Regions from separate parts of the Homo sapiens genome. Here region 1 is linked to region 2. The links come from fine-mapping of genetic effects on gene expression. Tissue or cell type: nasal epithelium. Region 2 holds a variant in brackets; the other region holds the start of a gene. All regions are shown on one strand. Distances are from middle to middle. Region 1 holds the start of NEK6 (NIMA related kinase 6). Region 2 overlaps NEK6 (NIMA related kinase 6).

What was found.
Region 1: NEK6 starts here. The variant in region 2 is fine-mapped to the expression of NEK6 in nasal epithelium (TOPMed, PIP 0.95).

Annotation. Positions count from the first base shown.
Region 1 is chr9:124,253,058-124,262,076 of GRCh38, reverse strand. NEK6 (NIMA related kinase 6) reads right to left here and starts at 4,128. Exons shown (of 10, transcript NM_014397.6): 1 at 3,992-4,128. LOC613206 (a long non-coding RNA gene) reads left to right here and starts at 909. Exons shown (of 2, transcript NR_149024.1): 1 at 909-983; 2 at 2,583-2,867. RefSeq lists enhancers at 2,566-3,511, 7,257-7,346, 7,377-7,466, 7,477-7,856 and silencers at 3,549-3,918, 3,979-4,108.
Region 2 is chr9:124,275,466-124,284,484 of GRCh38, reverse strand. All of the region lies in intron 1 of NEK6 (NIMA related kinase 6), which reads right to left. Among named protein-coding and RNA genes, the nearest start is that of NEK6, 22 kb to the right of the region's middle. RefSeq lists a silencer at 1,421-1,715. The variant G/A (reference allele first, on the strand shown) is at 5,121.

The DNA of each region.
Region 1 (9,019 bases), 22 kb after region 2:
CCACCGCAGACCACCCCTCACTCCAAGAGCACTCCTGCTCCCCAGAGCTCCATGTTCCATGTAAAGTTCCACGGCATGTGCACACCACTTCCTAAGAATGATGTCAGCAAAAAAAAAAAAAGATAAAAATGTGGAAAAAAGGACTATTTTTACCTCCCCAAATCACAGGCCAGACGGGAGAAAAATCCATCAATGCCAGAAATGTGGCTGAGCCTTCGCACAAGATCTATTATTTCACACCTTAAATTAACGCATCTCAAAGCAATTTGCAAATGTTCGTCAATTTGCAGAACATACATGGAAGGGAGAGAAATACCTTTTCCTTTCAACACCGAAGGACACTGGCAGGGGGGCACAACATGGCCCAAACCACACAGGTCCTCACACACAACATTCATTTCAAGCACATGTAGTAGAAGCCGTGATCGAAATGGAAATGAGCAGGGAAAAAAGGCAGGCAGGGGACTTAAATGACAAGTGACAAGAAGCCTACCTACAAGCGATCTCGCTGTCAGATATTTAGGACTGTGAGTCAGGCCCGTGAAGGTGACATCAGGGGGCCAGAACACCGGACTCTTCCTGCGAACAGTGTCCCAGCCTCATCTCCACACAAGCCTGGCAGTGCCTGCCCGTATTTAATCTTGGATGATTCACCAGGTCCCTCCACTCTCCACCCTCCAACTCCCTTGCTTGGTCTAGCCTGAGAAGAGGAAGGAAATATTCTTCTCCTTTTGACAATTGTTTTGACACTTCCCTTATGAAAAGTATCTGGGGCACTTAAAGAAAAGAAAAAATGTGAACAGCAGCCCTTTCTCTCCAGTAGCTCTGGCCCTGGGCGAGGAAGGCCAGCAGTGCCTTCTGGAAGACCTCTCCCAGGTCTCGGGCAACCCAGCCCTGCAGGAACCTAGCCTGTCTTAACCTACTTGGCTTTGCAGCATGCAACAGGAGCAAAGCACGACAAAGGCAGCCAGATGTGGTTTAAGGTGAGGAACTCTGGAATCAGAGACATGGGTTCGAATCCCGACTCTGCCATTTGTGGGTTTATGACCCTGCCCAAGTTACTTAACCTCCCTCTCTGTAAGATCAGGAAAACGACACTGAACCTCAGCACAGGCCAGGCATCCAGCCCACAGTGCCTGCTACCTTCCTAGTACAGTGGGGAGACCATGGGCTCTGCTCAGACAAGCCTGGGTTCAAATCCAGCTCTGCTGCGTATTAGCACATGGTCTTTGGCGCATTCTCTCATCTCTCTGTGCCCCAGTTTCCTCATCTGTAAATGGGCATCGTGACAGCTTCCATCTTAGTGTTGGTGAGTGGACTGGGTAAAATACAGCACCAGACCTAGCACACAGTATATCCTCAGTAAATGGGGACATGGCCGGGCATGGTGGCTCATGCCTGTAATTCCAGCACTTTGGGAGGCCAAGGCGGGCGGATCACCTGAGGTCAGGAGTTCGAGACCAGCCTGGCTGGCCAACACAGTGAAACCCCATCTCTACTAAAAATACAAAAATTATCTGGGCGTGGTGGCACCTGCCTATAATCCCAGCTACTCAGGAGGAGGCTGAGGCAGGAGGCTCACTTGAACCCAGGAGGCAGAGGGTGCAGGGAGCTGAGATTGCGCCACTGTACTCCAGCCTGGGCAACAGAGTGAGACTCTGTCTCAAAAATAAATAAATAAATAAATAAAAATAAATGGGGACCATCTATCGTGGTGCTACTTTAATGAAATTATGCAAGTCATGTCTCTGAACCTCAGTTTTATCATTTGTGAAATGGGGATAATAAACCCTATCTACGATGAGCAGAAAATGAACGGATGTGTGCTAAAGTACTCAGCACTAGGTCTGTGCACCTTAGCCAGTCAAATACCATATCCCAAGTGCAATGGAAAGAGGAAAGGCTGTGAGGCTGGGCAGGTGACTTCGGATTCTGCCCCCACCTCCTCTCAGCTGCCCCAGGACACAGGCTTGACCCCCGTGTGCCTCAGTTTCCTTGTGCACAAAACCAAAAGCATTTTCTGTCACAGAAGACCAACGGGAGATTCACACCCCCTAGAACGGCTCCCAGCACACAGCCCCTTCTGCTCCGCAAAAGGGAACTTCCTCCCCATTTCCCTCCTCTGCCCTTGTTCAAACCCACCAGAAATGCCACCAGTTAAAGCCAGGCGCTCCATTTCTGGAAACCCAAACAGCTCTAAATCCAGACCAACCTGGGTCTAAGGCCTTCAGTCTGAGACTTTATTTTGTGGAGATACAAACTACTTTTTAGTCATTTCCGAAGCAGACGGGACAGCAGAGGCTGACAAACCACAGGGACCATTTTAAATCCTGGGCCTTTTCTTCTGGGAAGTTAGGCAAGAACCTTCCCAAATGTTTGCCCGTCAGGCTCTCTGCCAGGGAGTGACTCATTCCACGGCTCCCCACAGGCATATTTTATTTGGGGGTGGGGGACGCAGCGAGGGCTTGGCCTTGATGGGGGAAGGAGAGGGGGCATTTCCAGCAAACCCAGAAGGTGTTTTCTTTTTTTCATTTTCAGGAGAAAAAAGAAAAAGAATGTGGGTCTTTTTTGCTTCCTTCCAGGTTTTGTTTGCTAAAAGAAGACGTCCAAAGTTCATTCGGTAAGCTCAAACTCGCTGAGTCCAAACTCGCTGAGTCCGGGGCAGGCGCTTCCAGACGGCTCTGCGTCCCTTTCAATGAAATTCTTCTTCCATTAACGACAGGGTTTTTAAACGTGCCTCCAAGACCTGCCTGCACGTACTGTACACCAAACTAAGGCGACATTTTCCCCCAAAAAAGGCAAGCTGAATTTGGAAAAGTCAGACCAACTAGGGAGCTCTGGAATTTCTAAAGTTTGCCTTAAAGCAATTAAGACTTTCAGCTGCAAAGATTTTCAACAGTTAGAGAGCACGCACACACACAAAAGCCTGTCAGTCAAAACTGCAAGGACAGACCTCGGAAGCTGGTGTCCCAAGCCCGCTGTGATCAATTTGTTACTGTCCTGGGATTCACACTTGGAGCCTAGGAGAGGTATAAATAAATCAAAAGATCCGTCTACTTAGCAGGGCAGGCAGAGAGGCCCCCACATACACAGGCAAGTCTAGGGTCAGCCCCCCAGGCCTGGCTGGAGAGAGACAAGAACAAAGACAGGAGAGCCTGGAGGATATTTAGGAAAACACACGTCCTCGGGTGCCCGGCCGAGGGGCCCACCACAGCCTCCGCTCGCCCAGCCTGTGTATGCAGAGAGGGTCCTGCCAGTGGCCCTGCCGCAGCCTGGCTCTAAGACCTTTGCCTCTGTCAGGCCCAGCCAGGCTCTGAGTCTGCCCTCCTGGCCCCTGGTTCACCGGATCAGGCCCAGCCCCGACCCCCAGCCCATGCCAGGCCGCTTCTCTCTCCACGGGCTCCCTGGCTCGGGGGCCATCACTGTGCAAAGGCCTGGTGGGCGCAAAGGGGGCCGGCCCCTCAACCTCAGTAATAAACACGCTCGCACGGCCCTGCACACTCGTTATACTCACACCCACACAGGCATACTTTCGCCCTTCTAGGCTCACGCATGTGCTTGCACACAAATCACTTTGGAATGCACACACGTGCACACACACACTCCCTGAGACCCGCACGTACTCCCTGCGGCGCCCGGCACACTCCTCCGCCCGTCGTCCCCACTCGGGAAGTGGGTAGCGGGGAGCCATGCCCGCGTCCCCGCACGCACTCACCCCAACAACGCCACCAGACGCTCCGGGGTGCACACGCACACCCGCCGGGGACGCGCACACCCCGGGACACGCGGACACGCCGCCCCCGCCCGCCCGGCCGCCGACACGCTCAGCCCCGCGCGGCCACACTCGCGCCCGCCTCCCGCTCTCCCCCGCGGAGCCGTGGGCGCGCGCCCGCCCTCGGCCCGGCTGGGGGTGACGGCCCCGCCGCCCGGCCCCCGCCCTTCTCCGGGCCGCGGGGCCCCACCGGCCCGGCCCCAGCCCCAGGCGACTCACCGGCGCGCGGGCGGGCTCGGCTGCCGCTGGGGGACCGGTGCGCTGGCCCGCGGGCGGCTGGAGCGGTGCGTCCCACACGAGTTTGCGGCGCAGCGGCCGCACGCCCGTCAGCTCGGTTCCGCCGCCGCCGCCACCGCCTGCGCGGGCCCGCGCGCCCGCGCGCCCGCCCCTCCCCGCCGCGGGGCCGCGCCGCCCCCAGCGCTCGTGCGCGCTGCCGCCACGCAAGCTTGAGGGGCGGGGGGCGCCCCGGCGGCGTCCTTCCTGGGCCTGGACCCCTCGACTCCGCCGAGTTCTGCGGCCGATCCGCTCGGCCGAGGAACCCCTTCCCCATTTCAGAGATGGGAAGACTGAGGCCCAGACTCACAGGGCGCAGGCCGGCGTCTCCCCATCTTCTCCGGCTCTAGACTTATGATGAGGGTCTGCAGTCAGCCAACCCTTGGACTCCTGTGCGTCTTCGGATTCCCCATCGCCTAGCATTGCTCCTACCACAGCCCTAGTCATACTGAAATTGGCACAGTAACAAGCACTTATTGTGCACCAGCTGAATGCAGGCACTGAAGTAGGCTCCAAGAGTATTCCGATGAGGGGAAGGCCCTGCCCCCTGCCCTCAAAGTGCCAGCGACTCTTCATCTGGAGCTCCCACTTCCTGTGGCCCCCGGGGGACCAGCAAGAGCCAATGTGCAGAGGTTTCTGGAAGTAGTAAAAGTCCCCACTAAAGAATGTTGAACGCCCCCTCTAGAAGTCAGAGCCTCCCTGAGACCCAAGCAGCTCAGTTCTCACTTCACCTCCTCCCCGCACCGAGAGCGGCCGCTCCTGGCTGGGCTGTTTCCACCCCTGCTGCCTCCCCTCCACATTCAAAACTGTGCTGCACCCCAGGAGGGCTGGAGCCAGGGACACTGACTGCCTGCTTGGGCGCAGCACTGTACTGGGCACAGGGTGAATGCCCGTCTGGCTTCTGTTTGCCAAATGAGTGGAAGTGCTTCAACTGGCCGTGATCTGTAATAATGACACCAACGGAGCGTCCACCACGTGTGCCAACGTTACCCTTGTGCCCATTTTACAGATGGGCTTTGAGGCTTAGAAATGAAATTTCAGGCTGGGTGCGGTGGCTCACACCTGTAATCCCAGTACTATGGGAGGCTGAGGTGGGAGGATGCCTTGAGGCTGGGAGTTTGAGGCCAGCCTGGGCAATATAGCAAAACCCCATGTCTACAGAAAAATGTAAGAATTAGCTGGGTGTGGTAGTGCCTGCCTGCAGTCCCAGCTACTCGGGACGCTGAGGCGGGAGGGTCTCTTGAGCATAGGAGTTAGCAGCTGCAGTGAGCTATGATCGCACCACTGCACTCCAACCTGGACAACAACAATAAAAAGCAAATTCTTTTGTTCAAAGTCACCCAGATGGTAAGTGGTTGAGCTGGAAAGTGCACGGCAGATTGTCTAATTCCAGTGCCTGTGTGGCCAATCACTAGGCAGCCCTGCCTCAGGAACAGCATAGCCCTGGGCTTCTGGAACAAGAGGGCAGACGAGGCAGCAGCTGGCCCACAGGAGCGGGCCTGGTCCCAGCTCTTGTGGATGAAAATGCAGACATCACAAACCAATGGGGAGGAAATGGATTGTTCTGCAAATTGTTTAGCCGTTTAGCTGGAGATCTGTTTACAGCCTTGCCTCCCATGATATACACCACAATAAATGTCAGACAGATTGAAAAGTTAAATAGAAGAAATAAACACTGCAACAAATAATAGAAAGAAATCGAAGTTCTGAGACAGCGTATTGCAGTGTTACTAGAGGATTTGTGATACTGGCCATATTCATGCAGCAAACATTAGTTCAGTCATTGGTTCACCCGACACATCTATGAGCACCTTCCATGGGCCAGGTACTTTTCTAGGCACTGGGATAAAGGAGTGAACAAAATATGGCCCTTTCTTGGGGCTTCAGTCAAGGGGGAGGGATGGGGTGGGAGGAAGACACTGAATATCTGCCATTTCAAGGATAAGAAGTTTGGGCCGGGCGCGGTGGCTCACGCCTGTAATCCCAGCACTTTGGGAGGCCGACGCAGGCGGATCACAAGGTCAGGAGATCGAGACCATCCTGGATAACACGGTGAAACCCTGTCTCTACTAAAAATACAAAAAAATAGCCGGGCATGGTGGCAGGCGCCTGTAGTCCCAGCTACTTGGGAGGCTGAGGCAGGAGAATGGCGTGAACCCGGGAGGCGAAGTTTGCAGTGAGCCGAGATCGCGCCACTACACTCCAGCCTCAGTGACAGAGCGAGACTCTGTCTCCAAAAAAAAAAAAAAAAGAAGTTTGGTGGAGAAATAACTCGGAAGGGTAGGAGGACCCAGGGGTGCTTTTTTATAGGGGGTGCTGGAAGAAGGCCTTTCTGATGAGGTGACATCTGAGCAGAGGCCTGAATGAGGGAGTGGGAGAAGTCAGTAGGGGCCCACTGTGTGGAGGGCAGGTCCCATGTTCTGGCAGCTATTCAGTTAAGCTACAGAGCAAGAACCAGAAACTCCCTTTTGAAGGAAACTTTGAGAGCCGCACCAGGCCACTGGGAGGAAAGGACTGCCCCCACCCCCAACACACAATATCTATGTAAGACTTTACTGCTTGCAAAGCCCTTCCCCAGCTTCACAGAACCCGTATGACAGATACTTGTGATGTCCTCATTTTCCAGTTAGGAAACCGAGGCTCAGAGAGGTCAAGCAATCTGTCCCAGGTCACACAGCCAATGATAATCAACAGAGGTAGGTCTGGCTGCAGGCAGGCTGAGTGTTAGGGGAATAAAGAAGCCTTGTCCTGGGATACAGGAGTGAACAAAAATCTAGCTCTGACTCTCTTGGGGCTTCAGCCAAGGTGGGAGAGTGGGATGGGAGGAAGACACTGTGAATGTCTGGCATTTCAAAGATAAGAAGTTTGGTGGAGACCAGGCGCAGTGGCTCACCCTGTAATCCCAGCACTTTGGGAGGCCGAGGTGGTGGATCACCTGAGGTCAGGACTTTAAGACCAGCCTGGCCAACATGGCGAAACCCCATCTCTACTAAAAATAAAAAAATTAGCTGGGCATGGTGGCACGTGCCTATAATCCCAGCTGCTCGGGAGGCTGAGGCTGGAGAATTGCTTGACCCCAGGAGGCTGAGGTTGCAGCGAACTGAGATCATGTCACTGCATTCCAGCCTGGACAACAGAGCAAGACTCTGTTTCAAAAAAAAAAAAAAAAAGTTTGATGGAGAAATAAAGCAGGGATAGGTAGGAGGACCCAGGAGTGCTTTTGCATTGGGGGTCCCCCTCCCCCTTGGATGGGAGCAGGGTAGGGGAGGCCCATGCACCCCATTTTCCTGGCCTTCCTCCTCCTCCATCCCTCATGGCCACTTCTTTCCCTCTGTCCTGGGCCCTGTGCAGATGGTCCCAGCTCCTGGTGACACTATGGGGCAAATATCAGGGTTAGCCTGCTCAGAGATTCTTGAATTCCCTGCAGTACTCTGATACACTGACGAGGGCACAGTAGAGTGATAAGGTACAATGCAAGCTGAATCCCACTCAACTTTTGTTTTTAACTCAAAGGAGTTTTTAGGGAGTCCCAAAATGAGTCATCGTGAAGCAGTGCTTTGCAAAATGACACCCAGAATTAGGATGAGCGTCTCCCTGCACACGTTGCCTCACACTTCTGCCCACCGAGGCGTTGTTCAACTGGTCTGGGAGAAAGTCTGTCTCCGTTCACCCCCAAAGAGTTTCAGGATTCAGTATGTGTTGTTTCATTATTTCTCTGCACGAAGGGAAGAGAAACTACCGCTTGCCGGGCACCTTCTCTGCATCTGGCTCTGTAAGAGACAGTTAATTCTTATAGCATCCCTTGAGATAGGGGTCATGATTTATGTTTTATAGATGAAGAAACTGAGGCTCAGAAAATAGCCAGGATTTGAATCCAGGTTAACTCAAGTCCTTTATTGTTGTTAGTATTGGGGGAGGGGGTAATGGGGGAGAGAGGAGAGGCAAGAAGAACTTAGAATCAGGCCATGTTCCTTTGAAGTTCCTTTGTTACAAAATATCTTCTTGCCATCTTCCCGGTAATGGGATTTTTTGTAGGGGGTGAGTTCCAATTTTCCCAGAAGGATTCATTCGCTCTTGTCATCCGGGTGCGATTATTGACAGCAACCCCTTTCCCTCTGCAAGTGTCTTGCTTTGGATGATCAACTTTAGGGTCACCTTGGGTGTCTGCAAAGGCCACTGCGTTGGGGGATTCATTTTTTACATTATACAAAATGGGGGTGTCTTGTCTGCTGGGCTCTTCGCCACATACTGATGTCTGGGTGTCCCACCAAGAACTTCCAGGAGAGTTTAAGCAGTTAAGTCACATTTTTAGGAGCAGCAAACCCTGCTGGCTGCAGAAGGAGTTGGGACCCTCTCCACCTCCTCCCCAGCCCTGCCACCACTCCCTGTGTGACCCCGGGCCACTTCCTGCCTAGCACAATGTGGGGATGGGTCTCCAAGAGTCCTGTCAACCTTGACCTTCTAAGATTTCCTGTTACTTGATGACCCGGGGGAATTTCGGTCAGGATAGGGATGTAGGAGTCATCACATCATCATATGGCTCACTTTATAAAGTAGCTGGCTCATTTTTTGTTATTTAACTTAAAAAATGTTTAATTTGTTGCTTGAATAGATAATACTTGCCCACAGTTCAAAATTCAAAAGGCACAGAAGGGGACAAAGTGAAAAGTGTCCTTTCTACCCCTACCTCCCAGCCACCTGGTTCTTATCCCTGGAGGGAGCCAACGTTGCCGAATATATGCTGTCCTAGACAGTGTGTTTTGTGTGGGTGTGTATATATGTATGCACGTATATATGGTCGTGTGTATGTGAATGTATATGTATTTCTTCTTATTTTTTGCTCATATAATAGCATACAATCTACACTATTGTGTATCTTATGTTTTCTTCACTTCTTGGAGACCATTTCCTGTTGGCTCCAGAAAAACTGCTTCCTTTTATATGACTGCATAGTATTCCAAACGATTTGCATTT
Region 2 (9,019 bases):
GTGGTCGCTGCCACGCTCCCATTCCACTCCTGGGAGCAGGAAAGACCCGAGTCCGTTCACTTGAGGCCTCATGTTTCACCAGATCCCCAAGGACTCCATCAGTCCACATCCAGTATTTTATTTTATTTATTTACTTAGAGACGGAGTCTCGGTCTTCGCCCAGTATGGAGTGCAGTGGTGCCATCTTGGATCACTGCAACCTCCGCCTCCCTAGTTCAAGCAATTATCGTGTCTCAGCCTCCCAAGTAGCTGGGATTACAGACATGCACCACCACACCTGGCTAATTTTTGTATTTTTAGTAGAGACAGGGTTTCAACATGTTGGCCAGGCTGGTCTCGAATTCCCAACCTCAGGTGATCCTCCCGCCTCAGCCTCCCAAAGTGCTGGGATTATAGGCGAGAGCCACTGCGCCTGGCCCACATCTGGTATTTTAAAGATGGGGAAACCAAGCCACACAGCAGAGGCGTCACATGCCTCCAGACATTCCATTATTTGCTCACTCAATGGACACACAAGTGCTGGGCACCAAGCGTGTGCCAGGCAAGGGGGACCAATCTCCATCCTCAATGGGGCTCTCAGGCGTCCCTTAAACTACAACCAGGGTGCCCGCTGCTCTGCAAAGCAGGGTGTGGAAACACAAGAAAATGTGCGTGCAGTCTACCTGGGGCATGGGATTTTTCCTCGGAACGGGAAGCAGCTCTGAGTGGAGGAATAGGGGCAGGGCACTCCAGGCAGAGGGCATGGCACGTGCAAAGGCCTAAAGGTGAGGCAAGCCCTGTGCGAGTTGTGGGATAGAGGCCGAAATGACAGCAGTGGCATCAAGCCTGCAGAGGGGAGGTTCAGGAAGTAGGATCCACAGGGCACTGCCATGACCTGCACATGGCTGGTAAGGGGTGCAGAGCCAGGGCTGGCACCCAGCTCTCCAGGCTCCCTTCCAGGGCTCCCTGCACATGACCCTCCCTCCCGCGATACCAAGTCTAGGTGGGTTTTCCTCAATGCCAATCAATGCCTGAGATGCAGCTTAGCAGCCTCTGTCCTCCGTCCAGTGCTACACCCGTGCACTCAACTTCCCCACCCCTGCCCGGTCGTCTCAGCTAACTGTGTCCTAGGACGTGGGGAAGGAAATGCCTATAGATTCTCCTTCCCAAGAGGCCCCACTGAGGCTCCGTCGCAGGAGTGGCATGAAATTTACGTTCTGGGCTCCAAGATGCTCTCTCTCATTCAGTATTGACTGAGCACCTACTATGTGCCAGGCCCTGGGCTAGGCACGGGAAGGGTTTGCCTTGTCATCCCCAGCCTTCCTGAGAGGGTCAGGGCTGGAACTGTGCCTCCTACTTCACAGGAGAGAAGTGGGGCTCAGCAGGGCTCTGGGACTCCCTTGCTTGAGATCACTTGGCAGGGAGTTGTCAGGGCGGAAACGTCTGATCACAGGGCCTTTGCCAAAATAGATAAAGGCCTCTGGGGGAACAGGGGAGGCTGGATTCCCTCCTTCCTGCCCCACAGGCTGCCCTTTGTCCACAAAGCGGGGGAGGCTGTGCTGGTGGGCGCTGCCGGGAATGGCGGGCCCTGTCATTACTGGGAGGGGCCGCTCTCTAACCCAAAAGAGCAGAGCCAGGGCTGGCGGCCTATGCTGGGCGCTGAGACGTTCTCAGCCCTCAGTGGTCCTGGCTGGTGCCACCAAAGGACCAAACGCTGCAAGCCTGTTTTTAAAAAACATCGTGCTGAAGACCCAGATCTACTCAGCACTTGTCTTTGGGGCCTGTATGAAAGCGTAGGAATGAATCTGGGATGCAGAGAGTCAGGGGGATCCCGGCCCTCCCGTGCCCCTGAGTATTCAGTGGGCGTGTCTGACCCACCCCCTGTGGCCCCAGCCTGGCCCTTGCTGTGGTGACAGCGTTCCCCCGCCAGACTCTGCTCCTTGGTCTCCTGTCTCCTCCTGGGAATGAGGGCAGGCTCCCTGGACCTGCCCTCCTCATCCCTTACGCCCCCAGAGTAATGTTCCCCCCAAACCCTTGTCTATCTGGAACTGGGGCATAGGCCCTTACTTGGAGATACTAATCAAGTTAAGCTGGGGTCACATGGGATTAGGGTGGCCCAAATTCAATGACGGGTGTCTTTCTATGAGGGATGGACACAGAGACAGACGCACAAGGAAGAAGGCCATGTGGCGACAGAGGCGAGCACTGGAGGGATGTGTAGACGAGCCACGGAACACGGAACAAGGAACAAGGAGGGTGGCTAGCGCCTGCCAGAAGCCAGAAAAAGGCACGGCAGGTGCTTTGTCAGAGCCTCCACGGGAACTGAGCCTACCACCAGCCTGATTTCAGGCATCACGCCTCCAGGATTCTCCAAGAGAGAATGAATTTCTATTGTTTTCAAGCACCCAGTTTGCAGTAATTTGTTATAATATCCCTAGGAAACCAATACGCCCCACCGCACACCAGGGCAGAGCCGGGGGCTCACGTGTGGCCATGACTCAGAGGTTCTTGAGGCATCAAAGTCTGCCCCGGGCTCCACTTCTGTGTCTGGGGTACAGAAGTACATCAATGGCTTCCGGGCCTGGAGGTGTCACAGGCCTGGACAGCCTCTCCCACATTTTGAAGATAGACATAGGTTGCCAGAGTTTTCTGGCATCTAAAATAAAACGTCCACCTAGTATCACCATCTTTCATAAAAGAAAGGACAGGCCGGGTGTGGTGGCTTACGCCTGTAATCCCAGCACTTTGGGAGGCCGAGGTAGGCAGATCACCTGAGGTCGGGAGTTCGAGATCAGCCTGGCTAGCATGGTAAAACCCTGTCTCTACTAAAATACAAAATTAGCTGGGTGTGGTGGCAGGCACCTGTAATCCCAGCTACTCAGGAGGCTGAAGCAGGAGAATCACTTCAACCCTGGAGGTGGAGCTTGCAGTGAGCTGGGATCGCACCACTGCACTCCAGTCTGGGCGACAGAGTGAGATTCTGCCTCCAAAAAAAAAAAAAAAAAAAAAAAAAAAAAAGAAAAAACAGCTGACATGGAAAGTAGCTATGCCAAGCCAGGCCTTCCTTTTCTTATTTCACCGTGGGTCCGCGGAAGACTTCACACGGCCCTAGGCCTGGCCTGGGTCTGGGATTTGGGAACCAGTGGACTCAGGCCACTGTGCTAGGTGACTTTTTCAATCGTGGCTGAGGAGAAGCATGGCCGGCCTCCTCCATTCTCCTATGAGTACAAAAAGGGGGTCTCCCTCTCAGAAATCTGACCAGTATATTCCAGTGAACATGAGGGTAATTCTAGTGAACACTCTCGGAGTACTGGGTGATTTCCTGGTCTGAGGGAAGAGGCCCCCAGGCCAGTCACCAGGCAGCCTGCTGGTGAGGAAGAAAAGAAAACACAAGCGAAAAGCGGGAGATGCAGCAGGGAAGCTCTGATCTTTCTCAAGAAAAACAAAAGCGCTTTGTGAGGCTGAGGTGGGTGGATCACCTGAGGTCAGGAGTTCGAGACCAGCCTGGCCAACATGTGGAGAAACCCCATCTCCACAAAAAATACAAAAATTAGCTGTGGTGGCATGCACCTGTAGCACCAGCTGCTTGGGAGGCTGAGGTGGGAGGATCCCTTGAGCCCAGGAAGTCAAGGCTGCAGTGAGCCGAGATCACGACACTACCCTCCAGCCTGGGCAACAGAGCAAGACCCTGTCTCAAAAAAAGAAAAAAATGAAGAGAAAAAAGCAAAGCAAAGCGTGAAATTATACACAATGTGCAAATGTCAAGGCTGAGGACCCCAGCTCTCTGCAGGGTCCCCTCATAAACCCGTGCCTAGCCACAGAGCGAGGTGCCAGATGCCTGGTGCTCCAGGAATAGCTTTCCAAACATGTGGCCCTGGAGGCCTGATGACCCAATGGACACTGGTCACCTCGTGCTTGGAAAACGTCACACCCATGTCTGCCCCACGGTACCCAGTGCTGGGACAGCAGCCCAGGGAAACATTCGCATGAGCGTGAGGAATGTTTCTTCTCCAGCAACTCCAGGCGCTGCTGCCATCTCTAAGGACGCTCCAATGGTGGGGATACCCTCTCCTGGAGTGCTCGGCTGGGACAGTCTCAGCGTGAGCGGCAAGCCTCACTCAGATGATAAGGTCTGACGCCGTACCCTTCCAGGCCCCGATTTCAACTCCCCTCCCTCCTGTTCTGCACGCCTAGACCAGGGGCAGGGTGGGCCCCAGTTCTCAGGAAGCCAGGAAACACACTCTTTTCTGGGCTAAATGCCCAGATTCCTCGAGCAGTCACAGGACACACTTTTTCTGAGCTGATCCAAAGCCACAAGTGTGGACTGGAAGTTTCTTTGGGCGGTGTGAACCTGCAAGGACACAGCCAGGCACACCTGGAATTCCAGGCTCAAAGCTGGTCAGTGAGAGAGGCCCCAGCTGACCCTGGACAGGCAGGGGCTCCAATCCTGCCCTGGCAGTGTGACCCAGGGATGGGCCTGCCCTCTGTGGGCCTCCATTCCCTTTTTGAGAACACCAGGGTTAACCCACTCTGCCATCATTTGCCAAGCATTTCTTGAGAAGCTTGTGAAGCCATGTGCTGTCCGAGGGGTTGGGGACACAGGAGTGGACAAGAGAGAGAAGGCCTTCCCCTCCCACAGGTTTTGCGTGGTTGGGAGGTAGACACAGACATGAGAGTGAACAGACATGGTCATTTCAGACAGCGATACGTGCCTTGAGGGAAACGCAGCCAGGGAGTGACTGGGTGGTGCCAATAAGGGGCCGGGTTTCAAAGAGTCACTGGGGCCATCAGATCAGATCATGCAGCAAATTCCTTGGCACATAATCAGCACTCAACAGACAAAGGGGTTCTCCTGTCCTCCCACTGCACAGGTGGGGCAAGTGAAGTCAGAAAGAGAAAGGCTGGGCCAGGCGCGTGGCTCACGCATGTAATCCCAGCACTTTGGGAGGCCGAGGCAGGCAAATCACTTGAGGTCAGGAGTTCGAGACCAGCCTGGCCAACATGGTGAAACCCCTGCCTCTACTAAAAATACAAAAATTAGCCAGGCGTTGTGGTGTGTGCCTGCAGTCCCAGCTACTCGGGTGGCTGAGGCAGGAGAATCGCTTGAACCCGGGGAGCAGAGGTTGCAGTGAGCCGAGATC[G/A]TGCCACTGCACTCCAGCCTGGGTGACAGAGTGAGACTCCGTCTCAAAAAAAAAAAAAAAAAAAGGGAAGAGAAAGGCTGGAGTAGGCTGCAAAGGGACTGGGCTGGTGTCGGGCCCAATCTAGCCCCATGTTTCCCAGGGGTCCGAGGGGGAGCTCCCTGCCCTGTTTGCCCCCATAAAGACCCTCCTGCTCTTTCTTGGTGGGAAAGTGATGCCTCCGGTATCACAGCCCAGGCTATCCCACCAAGACAGGTTGAAGCCCCCCATCCTCTCCAGGCCAGGCCAGAATTGAAATATGGGACACTCCACCTATTTGCTGGGAAACTTCGCCCAAATTGATCACCTCTCTAAGCCTCACTTTTGTGATCAGAAAACCAGGAAAGAGATCTACTGAAGATGAGACTGTGTAGGCAAAGTGCCCCGGTACACAGGAGGTCTGAGATCGTGCTTGGTCCCCCCACCCTGGTCTCCACTGATCCTCCCCAGCACTGCGGCAGGGGCTGGGACGGGTGCTCTAGGTGACGGGAATTCTCAAGGGAGCGGGGAGTCAGATGTGGTATGAAGACTTCTTTGCTGGGCATCTTAGCCAAGACCCTCAGCCTCTCTGAGTCTCAGTCTCCCCAGCTGTATAATGTGTCAACCAACATACATGAAGTCATCCAGCCGGTATCTGACGCATGCGTCTCCCCACCCTCATGCGCCCATTCAACCTAAAAATATTCTGACCGCATCCCAAGTGGGCACTAAGTCCTATGGTGGGCCAGGGGTGGGGGGGTGTGGCTGAGCCCCCTGTTGGCGGGCAGAACCCAGTCTCCTCTAGAATCCTCCTGCAGCCACCTGGGTCTGCGAGGGGGTGAGGGCTTGTGGGCTAGCCTGGGCTCATCTTCTTGAGCAACTTCTCCTCCACGGAAAACGACACCCGGACAGACCTGGAAACAGCCCTCCTCAATGCCTGGGACACTACTGCTCACCTAGGGGAACCTACAAACCCAGCCCATGCCCCCAACGCCTACAAAGTACCACAGATATAAACAGTCACACATCGCTTAGCGACAGGGACACACTCTGAGAAATGCATGACGAGGCGATTTTGTCACTGTGTGAACGTCTTGGAGTTGACTTACACAAACCCAGACGGTCTCGCCTCCCCCACACCTAGGCGATAGGGTGTCGCCTGTCACTCCTGGGCTACACACCTGTACCGCATGGTCCTGTACCGAGTACTGCAGTCGACAGTAATGAAATGGTCAGTATTTGTGTGTTTACACGTGGAAAAGGTACAGTCAAAAGATGGCATTATAATCTTATGGGACCAACGTCACATACGCAGTCTGCTGTTGACCAAAGTGTCCTTATATGATGGTGCATCCCGTATTAAAACTCAAAGGCGCCCCTTCTCACAGCTTCACTTTGGACTTCTCAGACCCAAATAAACAAATAAATGCAGGGAGGATCAGAAATCAGTCACAGGGACAACACGATGCACTCTCCACAGCACATGAGGAGCAGGGCTCTTGCAGATTCACGAGGCAGCCTGGAAATTGGGGATACAAATGAATTCCGTGGCCGCCGACCTGCCTGGATGGGGCCTGCGGGCGCGCTCCCGTGAACGCGGGCCTCTCTCGTCCCCAGGAAGCAAAACAACTTCTCTGACAGGGAAGAGAATAAACGACACGCAGAAATAGGAATTTAGGGAAGACAACACTTTCCTTCCTCTCCCCAGGCAGTGCTGGGAGCGTCACAGATTTTATCATTTATTCTCACAAGTCGGCAGGCATCGGCCTGGTTTTTCACAGGAAAGCCGAGAGAGGCTGAGGGTGCCAAGGGGAGAGCCCTCCGCTGCCCCAACACCCAGCAGGAAAGGGTAGGAGAAGGTGGTGGGATGGGAGAAAGAGCTGAGGATTCTTTGTTTTGTTTTTGAGATGGAGCCTCACTCTCTTGCCCAGGTTGGAGTGCAATGGCACAAGCTCGGCTCACTGCAACCTCCGCCTCCCATGTTCAAGAGATTCTCCTGCCTCAGCCTCCCAAGTAGCTGGGATTACAGGCGTGTGCCACCATGCCTGGTTAATTTTTGTTATTTTTAGTAGAGGTGGGATTTCACCATGTTGGCCAGGCTGGTTTCGAGCTCCTGGCCTCAAGCAATCCACCTGCCTTGGCCTCCCAAAGTGCTGGAATTACAGGTGTGAGCCACCACACCCGGCCCAGCCAAGGACTCTTTTTGGGTGGAAGTGCGGCCTCAGGTAGCTGAGAGGCTCAGGAATGTCCACAGTGGCATCAGCACCTGGGCCTCCCCACTGGCCTCTAAGTCCTCCCAGCCTTAGCACCGTCATTTTCCACACGCGCCACCAGACACATATTCCTAAGACCCCATCTCCCCTTCCTTATCCACCTTCAAGGTTTCTGGGTTGCCATCCCTCCTGAGCTTAGCACCTAAGACCCCTTGACCCATCAAGCCCAAGCCCAGGTGATGTCTGTCCTCCACCACGTCAGCTCCACGGAGCCACTTATGGTTCCTGCAACTGCTGTTTCCCACCTCTGCACCTGCTCACGCAGTCTCCCCATGCTCTAACTGCAGGCCTTCGCCACCTGGCCAACCCCTACTGATCTGAAGGGTGCTCTGATGAACGAGCCACAATAGCAATAGGAGGAGGAATTATTGTTTAAAAAGCTAATAGCTAATATTTACATATCAATAATAACATACTGTTAGGATTTGCATGTATGGAGGAGGGGCTGTGAAGATTCAGGCTCAAGCACTGGCCCCTCTGCACACACTCCAGCCACACATAGACAACCACTGTTCCAGCCACTGTCGTCCTGAGTCCACGGGGATTCAATGGCCCCTTCGATGTACCACGGGCTCATTATTGCTTCATGATTTTTCTTTTTCCACTCTTGCTCTTAGGCTGACCCTATGGCTTCTGTGGGCCTCGGCCTCACCCTGCTCCCAAGCCAGATCCAGGTATGAAGGGCCAGGGTCAGAGGAGAGTCAAGGGCAAAAAGCACATTGCCCTCCTTGACTGATGAGGAGACTAAGACCAGGGCCCCAGCCCACCCTTGCCCCAGTCACCCATCCAGAGATGATTCCTGAGACTCTGGAGCCACTGAAGCCCCTGGGGAGCATTTCTTCTGACTTGCAGCCCAGAATTCTTTACTCCCTGATCCAGGGGTCTCCAGGTAGGAGCTCAGGCTGTGGACACCAGGTGCCCGGCACTGTTCCAGGCTGCTCCCCACTTCTCCCCACTCTCCCCAGGACAGCCCCGTTCCCCCTCCTCTCTCCTGAAGTTCACAGCCGCCTCCCAGCCCCCCAGCCTCCACGGGCCACACTCTGCTTCAGGGGGGCCACTCCCCTGCTCAAAACCTTTCCAAACACCCACCTCCCGCAGGATCAAACCTAACTGTCGTTTAAAGGATCACCGCAGCAGGCACAATGGGTATGTGAGTCACAGAGCTGGTTCCATCCGTCCCGCTGACCTATCTGTCCCCAGAAAAGGCCTGGGCTTTGGACACAGTGGTCTCAGCATCTCAGCTGTCCCCATGGCCACAGGCCTGAGGAACAAACGAAGGGTGCATTGCTCCCTCCCCTCATTACCGTCACCGAGGCCTTTGCCAGGCCAGGCCCTGGGCTGAGCACTGGGACCACAGAGGAAAGTGGCTCAGTCCTAGCCCTGGAGGGGATCCTGGGGCAGGGGACTGGCCATTAGTGGGCCTCACAGGGTGGGGGGCCATGTTGGGGAAGATGCAGAAGGGGCTATGGAGGCACCAAGCAGGGGTTTCTAAGCAGTGTGCTGAGGTCAGAGGAGACTCCCCAGAAGCAGTGATGTCTGAGAAGTGAGAAGGAAAGCATTACAGACCCAGAGAACCAGGAGCTCCGCCTGGCAGAGGACAGGGCCCGGCAG